Linked DNA regions of Homo sapiens. The protein of the gene in region 2 interacts with the protein of the main gene of each other region in a pairwise test. Each region holds a gene or a part of one and is shown on either strand. Other genes may lie near its edges.

Region 1 (3,500 bases), on a different chromosome or scaffold from region 2:
TAAAATGAATGCCAGCAATGATACGTGGAACAGGATGGAGGAATTAGGATTGTTTTGTTATCATAAGGTACTCACACGATCCATGAAATGGTATAGTGTTATTTGAAAGTGCACTTGGATTTGTTGTACTTGTAAACTGCAAACTCCAGGGCAATAACTAAAAAAAGTTAAAAAAAAGTACAACTGATACACTATGAATGGAGATAAAACAGGAACATATAAAATGCTCAGTTAAAACCACCAAAGGCAAAAAAAAAAGTGGAAGACAAAAATAGGAGCAAAGAATGAGGGTAACAAATAGAAAAACAGTAACAAATGTGGTAGATCCAACTATATCAGTAATCACTTTGAATGTCAATGGTCTAAGTGCATAATTGAAAGGCAGAAATTGTCAGGATGGACACAAAAAGAAGACTCAACTGTATGTTGTCTACAAGAAACTCACATTAACCATAAAGATACATATAGATCAGCTGAGTGTGGTATCTCACCCCTGTAACCCAGCACTTTAGGAGGCTGAAATGGGAAAATCACTTGAAGCCAGGAGTAAGACTAGCCTGGGCAATATAGTGAGACCCCATCTCTACAAAGAATAAGAAAATAGCTGGGTGTGGTGGTTTGTGCCTGTAGTCCTAGCTGCTTGGGAGGCTGAAGTGGGAGGATTGCTTGTGCCAAGGCATTTCAGGCTGCAGTGAGCCAAGATGGTGCCACTGCACTCCAGCCTGGGTGATGGGTGATAGAGTAAGACCTTGTATCAAACAAAAAAAGACACATACGGATTAAAAGTAAATGGATGGGGTCAGGCACGGTGGCTCACGCCTGTAATCCCACACTTTGGGAGGCCGAGGTGGGCAGATCACCTGTCAGGAGTTCGAGACCAGCCTGACCAACATGGAGAAACCCCGTCTCTACTAAAAATATAAAAATTAGCCGGGCATGGTGGCACATGCGTATAATCCCAGCTACTCCGGACCTTGAGGCAGGATAATTGCTTGAACCCGGGAGGCAGAGGTTGCGGTGAGCCGAGATCATGCCATTGCACTCCAGCTTAGGCAACAAGAGTGAAACTCCGTCTCAAAAAAAAAAAAAAAAAAGAATTATACACCACACCAACTGGGGTTTAGTCCAGGTATGCAGGACTGGTTCAACATTTGAAAATCAATTAATGCTAGGTGCAGTGGCTCACGCCTTTAACCCTAGCACTTTGGGAGGCCGAGGTGGGTGGATCACCTGAGGTTGGGAGTTCAAGACAAGCCTGACCAACATGGAGAAACCTGTCTCTACTAAAAATACAAAATTAGTCGGGCGTGGTGACACCCGCCTGTAATCTCAGCTGCTCGGGAGGCTGAGGCAGGGGAATCACTTGAACCTGGGAGGTGGAGGTTGCAGTGAACTGAGATCAACTATTGCACTCCAGCCTGGGCAACAAGATCCAAACTCCATTTCAAAAAAAAAAAAAGAGAATAAAATAAAAACAAAAGAAAATCAATTAATGTAATTAATCACACCAACTGACTAAAAAAGAAAAATCACATGATCATATTAATAGATGTAGAAAAAGTATTTGGCAAAATTCAACACCCATTCATGATAAAAACTCTCAGTACACTAGATAATTTCCTCAATTTGATAAAGAATATCTACAAAAAGCCTATAACTAACATCATACTTAATGATAAGAAAGTAGAAGCACTCCCACTAAGATTAGAAACAGGCAAGGATGTCTCCTGTCACCACTGCTTCATACATTGAATTTGCATTCAGTATGAACAAGTCTTAGCAGTTTCCCAGTCTTTGCTAGGAAGTCCTAGTAAATGCAATGTAGTTCCTTCAGAAAAAGGAAATGAAGGGACTACAGATTGGGAGTGAAGAAATAAAACTATCTCTGTTTGCAGATGACATGATTGTCTATGTAGAAAATCTAAATGAACTGACCAAAAATCTGCTGGAACTAATAAGCAATTATAGCAAGGTTGCAGGATACAAGGTTAATACATAAAATGCAATCACTTTCCTATGAAACAGCACTGAACAAGTAGAATCTGAAACTTAAAACACTACCATTTACATTAGCACCTAAAAAAGTGAAATGCCTATGTATAAATCTAACAAAATATGTACAATATCTATTATGAGGAAAACTACAAAACTGATTAAATAAATCAAGGAACTAAATAAATGAAGGGGACAAGCGCGGTGGCTCACGTCTGTAATCTCAGCACTTTGGGAGGCTGAGGCGGGTGGATCACTTGAGGTCAGGAGTTCGAGACCAGCCTGGTCAACATGGTGAAACCCTGTCACTACTAAAAATACAAAAATTAGCTGGGCATGGTGGCACGCACCTGTAATCCCAGCTACTCAGGAGGCTGAGGCAGGAGAATTGCTTCAACCTGGGAAGCGGAGTTTGCAGTGAGCTGAGATTGTGCCACTGTACTCCAGCCTGGGTGACAGAGCAAGACTCCATCTTAATAAATAAATAAATAAATTTATAAATAAATATAAAATAAATAGATAGATAGATATTCCATGTTTATGGATAAGAGGACTCACTATAGATTCAAACAATCCCAATCAAAATCAGTTGTGAATATCAACAAACTAATTGTATAGTTAGTTTATATAGAGAAGCAAAAGACCCGCAGGGCGTAGTGGCTCGCGCCTGTAATCCCAGCACTTCGGGAGGCTGAGGTGGGTGGATCATGAGGTCAAGAGATCGAGACCATCCTGGCCAACATGGTGAAACCCCATCTCTACTAAAAATACAAAAAATTAGCTGGGCGTGGTGGTGGGCACCTGTTGTCCCAGCTACTTGGGAAGCTGAGGCAGGAGAATCACTTGAACCCAGGAGGCGGAGGTTGCAGTGAGCCAAGATTACGTCACTGCACTCCAGCCTGGAGACAGAGTGAGACTCTGTCTAAAAATAAAATAAAATAAAATAAACCCAAAATAGGTGACAAAATACTGAAGGAAAAGAACAAAGTCAGAGGACTGACACTACCCGACTTGAAGAATTACTGTAAAGCGGCCAGGCATGGTGGCTCACACCTGTAATCCCAGCACTTTGGGAGGTAGGGTCTGGTGGATCACAAGTTCAGGAGTTCGAGACCAGCCTGGCCAAGATGGTGAAACCCCATCTCTACTAAAAATACAAAAATTAGCCAGATGTGGTGGCGGGCCCCTGTAATCCCAGCTACTCGGGAGGCTGAGGCAGGAGAATCGCTTGAACTTGGGAGGTGGAGGTTGCAGTGAGCCGAGATTGCGCCACTGCACTGTAGCCTGGGTGACAGAGCAAGACTCTGTCTCAAAAAAAAAAAAAAATTACTGTAAAGCTACAATAATTAAGACAATGTGTTTTGGACAAAGAATAGACAAATAGATCAATGGAACAGAATAATGAACCCAGAAATAGACCCAACTGATCTTTGATAAAGGAACAAAGACAATACGATGTAGCAGAGATAGTCTTTTCAACGAATGGTGCCAGAATAACCGGGCATCCA
Region 2 (5,470 bases):
AGCTGCATCTGCCAGGTTCAAAGAGGAATTTTTCACATTTGCTCACTTCCAATCTCCATCTTCCTTCCTCTGTCTCCCACTCTCCCACTCTCAGTAGCCGCATCCCAGCCCTGCCATACTCCCTTCTCAGGGACAGGAGACTCAGTGGGCAGCTGGCCTCAGCTCTCCTAACAGGAAAAAAACCTGTACAGCATTAGTGCCAGGGCTCCTGCCCTCCCAAGCGCTGAGCCCAGAAATTTGGACAAATGAGCTGCCTCTTAACTGCAAAAAACAATTTTAAAAAAGCAAAAGATCAAACAAACAGACCAAAAAGCATAAATAAACAGCAGCTGGGCCAGCAAGGAGGAAGGCAGGGTGACCCTCAGTGGCTCCCTGTGCCCATCTCAGCCTCTTGCCATAAAACTCAGCCATCAGTGGCCAGGATGACAGCAGTTCCGAAGATGCCCACACTCTCTCCAAGGAGCTTCATCTGGTTCCAGAACTCAACACGCCGCGTGTTGTGCCAGTAAGCAACATTGCCATCAATGAGCAGCATGACAGGGGGCAGCAGTACAGCCAGGATCTGGGCAGCGAGGGTCACGTAGTAGCCTGACAGAAAGGCCAGGGCCAGGATGCCATACAGCACGAAGAACAGCTGGATCATCAGCTCCCCTCCTGGGAGATGGTTCAGATACGCCAGCCGGTCCTCCTTGCTGTGCTGCAGTGAGTAGGCCTGGAGACATAACATCCTCTAAGACTCTCCAACAGGCTCAGAAGCCTGTCTGGGGTAAACCACCCCTGAGATGGCACCTGCAAATGAGTCCCTGCAGATGGGCTTCTGACTCCCCTCTTGGACTGGGGAACCTCTGAAAGTAGGGCCTTTGTCTCCCCCTCGGACTATGGAGCCCCAGGAGATTAGGGCCCATGTCTCCCCTCACCCTAGGGGCTATGAAGGAAGTGTATTTCCACAGTCAGACTAGAGCTCCCACCTCTGAATATGGGAGCCCACACAGAGAGCTGTACAGAGATATACTCGGTAATTAAGATAAGACCTAATGGCCTGGCGCCTGTCCATGTCTCCAGTCACCCTGGCCTCCCCTAGCACCAGGGAGAACCATAAGTGGCTACCCTAGAGCTCTCATCAGCTCTAGGGGGCAGAGTCCCAGCTGGGGCCTGACCCCCACCAAACCTCTCCTTTATCCCCTTCTAGTCCTTTGGGGGCTGGAGCCATGAGAGAATCACCCCATCTTGTTCTCCTGGCTCTCAGGGTTGAAATTTAATGGCCAGTCTACCTCGTGGCAACACTGTTGGAGGAAGGGCCTCTCAACAGGCATTTGGAGGGCCCCTGAGGCCTAGAAGCTGGCCAGGGCAATTCCCAGGGAACTGGGCCATCAGGAACTGCACTCAGGGCCTCGTTCTGTGTCTACCTTCCTGGGGTTCTGCCATGCCTAGACTCACAGTTCACTCCCAGCCAGGCACCTCCAACCAACAGTCCCCCAACATACCACACAGATGAGGTAGATACCCAGGAACACCTGGCCGGTGGACTGCAGGGAGCGGCTGCGAGGTTTCCGGCGGTACAGCTCCCCAGCACCGCTGGCCAACACAAGAAAGCCGCCGATGATGGCAACTGTGCGCGAGTACATACGGACCTAGGCCGGGGTAAGGGGACCCCAGTCAAGAACTGCAGCCGCCACATCTCTCCTGGCTTCCCAGAGTGTAGAACCACCCCTCTCTACACATCCCATTCCATCTGATGAACCCTCTTACATTTCCAAGCTTGGTGGGCAGGTGCAACAGAGACAGATCATTCTTTTTATATATATATAGAAGTAGAAACTGAGGCCCAGAGGGTTAAGAAAACTGTCAGGTCTGGCCAGGCGCAGTGGCTCACGCCTGTAATCCCAGCACTTTGGGAGGCCGAGGCAGGTGGATCACCCTGAGGTCAGGAGTTTGAGACTAGCCTGGCCAACATGAGGAAACCCTGTCTACTGAAAATACAAAAATTAGTCGGGCGTGGGGAAGGGCGCCTGTAATCCCAACTACTTGGGAGACTGAGGCAGGAGAATCGTTTGAACCTGGAAGGCGGAGGTTGCAGTGAGTTGAGACAGCGTCACTGCACTCCAGCCTGGGCGACGGAGAGAGACTCTGTTTCAAAAAACAACAACAAAAAAGAAAACTGGCAGGTCCTACCTGCCAGTAAGTGGCAGAACCCAGACACAATGTGTTTCTCCCTTCCCCACTCTCAGATCTGTAGACTCTAATCTTGGTGTTCTTTATTCTACATGGCATGGGATCTATGCCACAAAAACATTGATCTTGCTGCCCTGTAGCTGTTCACACATCTTCCTCCCCTAAGGGTCTGACAGTCTCTTCCTCAAGGACAGTGCCTTTGTCCAACCTTATCTCCAGCCTGCAGGGCCTGGCACAGGTTCTGGCTTAAATGCTATACTAACAGTAATTACATTTTCATAAAATTTATTTTATGAAAACTAGGTACTCTCCAAGGTCCTTTGTACCCCATGAGTCTGAGATTACTAAACTAACAGTTTAAAAGATTCTGGGAACCAGGTGACCGGGGTTCTGGTCCCACCAGTATCCTGTATTGTGGCTTTGGGAAAGTCTGTTTCCCATCTCTAGACCTCAGTTTCCACACTTTGAAGAGGAAGTTTGTGTGGTCTCTAAGATCCATTTCTGCGCTCTGTAATCTCCATAAGCCAAGGGGTTCGAACCTCCCAGGCTTCACACTGTGCAGCTGGCCAGCACCATTCATCGCCCACCAACAGCCCTGGGCATTGGCCTCTGATTCCCCGTCACCCAGAGGGAAGACCCTTTTGGGGCCGAGGCGCTCACCTTCAGCCAGTCCCCGTAGTGGACGTAGCCCCCGATGTAGGCGGCGTAGGTGCTAATGGCCAATTGGAGTGCGGCCCCCAGCGCGAACCAGCGCCGCTTCACGCCAAAGGACATGAAACTAGCGCACAGCACGGCTGCCCCCATGTCGAAATACAGGTAAGGCACTGGGATGTCGGGCTTCCTGCGAGCCGGGAGTGGGGAAGCAACGAGGACAGAATGAAGCGGTGGGGGAAGAAGCTTGAGACCCCTTGAGTTCCCACAGGCTCCACTGCTCCCCCAAACCAGACTCCCCTCCCATGGGCAGGACCGCCCTACCAGATTTGGTCCGACACCCAGACCAGAACCCCTCCCAGGGAGGTCCCAATTCCTCCCAGTTCAAGGGTCCCGACTTCTAGCCCCCAATTTCTTGCCCACATCACCGCCCCCTGCCGCGTTTAGCGGCTGCGTAGGCCTGCTCACCGGCGTGCCTCAGCCCTCTCAGCGTACAGCATGAGCTGGCTGAAGCAGCCCCAAAAGGGGCAGCGTGTGAGCAGCACCGAACCCAACTGCATGATCAGCTGCAACATCCACCGTCTCGAACCTATCTTCGACGCCATCTTGGGAAAGGGCAGTCCGCTGCGGCCTCACCCCAGTCAGAGAAGCAGGCGCGGGGATGGGACACGCAGCTTCCGGGTCAAGCGCTTTTTCTTTTTCCTCCCGGAAACAACGGTGTCATTCTCTAGTTCCGGATCTAAGGTGACCCAGTTGCGAAGTCCAGCCTTCTCGTCTGCTCATGGAGCCTTCAGGGCCATATTTGTCCCTGCGAATTTGAAAACTAGACTAGAGGAAGGAACAGTGGGTTCAGGATAGCAGAAGTCTTGGACCGTAGTATGATGTATTGAAGCAAACTGGTCTTTGAATGCAGCCCGATCAGGGCCCTAATCCTGATTCCAACCCTGTGTGATTCTGGGCACATCACCTAAACTTTATGAGACTCATCATGAAATGGGGATAATTACACCTACCTCAGAGTTGTGAACTTTTTTTTTCTTTTTTTTTTGTTTTGTTTTGTTTTTGAGACGGAGTCTCACTCTGTCGCCTAGGCTGGAGTGCAATGGCACGATCTTGGCTCACTGTAACCTCCGCAACCTGGGTTCAAGCGATTCTCCTGCCTCAGCCTCCTGAGTAGCTGAGACTACAGGCTCTCGCCACCACGCCCGGCTAATTTTTTGTATTTTTAGTAGAGACGGAGTTTCACCGTCTTAGCCAGGATGGTCTCGATCTCCTGACTTCGTGATCCGCCCGCCTCGGCCTCCCAAAGTGCTGGGATTACAGGCATGAGCCACCGCGCCAGGCCAGAGTTGTGAACTTTAAATGTGACAAGGTCGGTCCTAGTACATAGTAGTGGTTCAATAAATGATACACATAACGCACCAGAGGAAACCCCCGTTTCTGTTAAGATCAAAGTAAGGGGTCCTCCTGGCTCAAAGTCACCTCTTTGGGTTTGCCTTTTGCCTGTGCCCTGAGAGAAAAAGGAGATCTGAACATCTGGGACATCTCAAGTCAGTCCATTTCTCCAGCTGCCATGCTCCCGCTGTAACCCAAATTGTCATACTTTGTCAGTTTAATTGCAGCAGACATCCAGGTGGTCTCTGCATTCCCCTCCAGTGTGTTCTCAGCCCCTTCTCCCACGCCCCACCCGTTTATATGTTCTCATAACATCAGCTACCTTCCTTTGAATCACTTGGCACGGTGGCAATTAGATAGATAGATAGATATAGATACACACGCACACACACACACACACACATATATATATATCTGCTTTACATATATATGCTTTTTTTTTATTTTTGAGACAGGGTCTCACTGTGTCACCCAGGCTGGAGTGCAGTGGTGCGATCTTGGCTCACTACAGCCTACACCTCCCAGGTTCAAGCGATTCTCCTGCCTCAGCTTCCCAAGTAGCTGGGATTACTGGCGCTTGCCACCACACCCGGCTAATTTTTATTTTTAGTGGAGACAGGGTTTCACCATGTTGGCCAGGCTGCTCTCGAACTCCTAACCTCAAGCGATCCAACCGCCTTGGCCTCCCAAAGCGCTAGGATTACAGGCGTGAGACACCGCACCCAGCCAATATATTTGTGATTGTTTTATTGACAATCTTCCCCTACTAGATCGCAAGCTCCCTAAGCACAAACACGGTGCCTGGGTTTCTGTTTACTGTTTACAGATGCTCCTTGACTTGTGATGGAGTTATATCCTGATAAACCCATCATAGGTTGAAAATACTGTAAGTTGAAAATGTGTGGCTGACTGGAAGCTGTGGCTTGCTGACACTGCCCAGCATTGTAAGAGAAATACAGTTTCCACTGAATGCAGATCTGCTTTCGCACCAATGTAAAGTTGAAAACTCCAATGCTGGGAACCATCTGTAGTATACAGGATGCCCTCAGGACCTAGTATACAGGATGCCCTCAGGAAATATGTGCTGTACAGATAAATGAAAAGGTGTTGGGCTGGGCGCGGTGGCTAACGCCTGTGATCCCAGCACTTTAGGAGGCCGAGTCGGGTGGATCACGAGGTCAGGAGTTCAAGACCAGCCTGGCCAAGATGGTGAAACCCCGTCTCTACTAAAAATACAAAAATTAGCCAGACG

What was found. The genes of interacting proteins can lie anywhere in the genome.
Region 1: the proteins of TMEM101 (region 2) and NINJ2 interact in binary tests that used the Homo sapiens proteins (3 or more experiments, as listed by UniProt).

The regions. Positions count from the first base shown.
Region 1 is NC_000012.12:653,446-656,945, forward strand, and holds part of NINJ2 (ninjurin-2), read right to left. Parts: intron 1-3,500. UniProt on the Homo sapiens protein: Its role in unclear. In contrast to NINJ1 paralog, does not mediate plasma membrane rupture (cytolysis) downstream of necroptotic and pyroptotic programmed cell death.
Region 2 is NC_000017.11:44,011,525-44,016,994, forward strand, and holds the start of TMEM101 (transmembrane protein 101), read right to left. Parts: upstream 3,440-5,470; 5' UTR 3,429-3,439; coding exon 3,292-3,428; intron 3,014-3,291; coding exon 2,833-3,013; intron 1,632-2,832; coding exon 1,485-1,631; intron 713-1,484; coding exon 404-712; 3' UTR 1-403. UniProt on the Homo sapiens protein: May activate NF-kappa-B signaling pathways.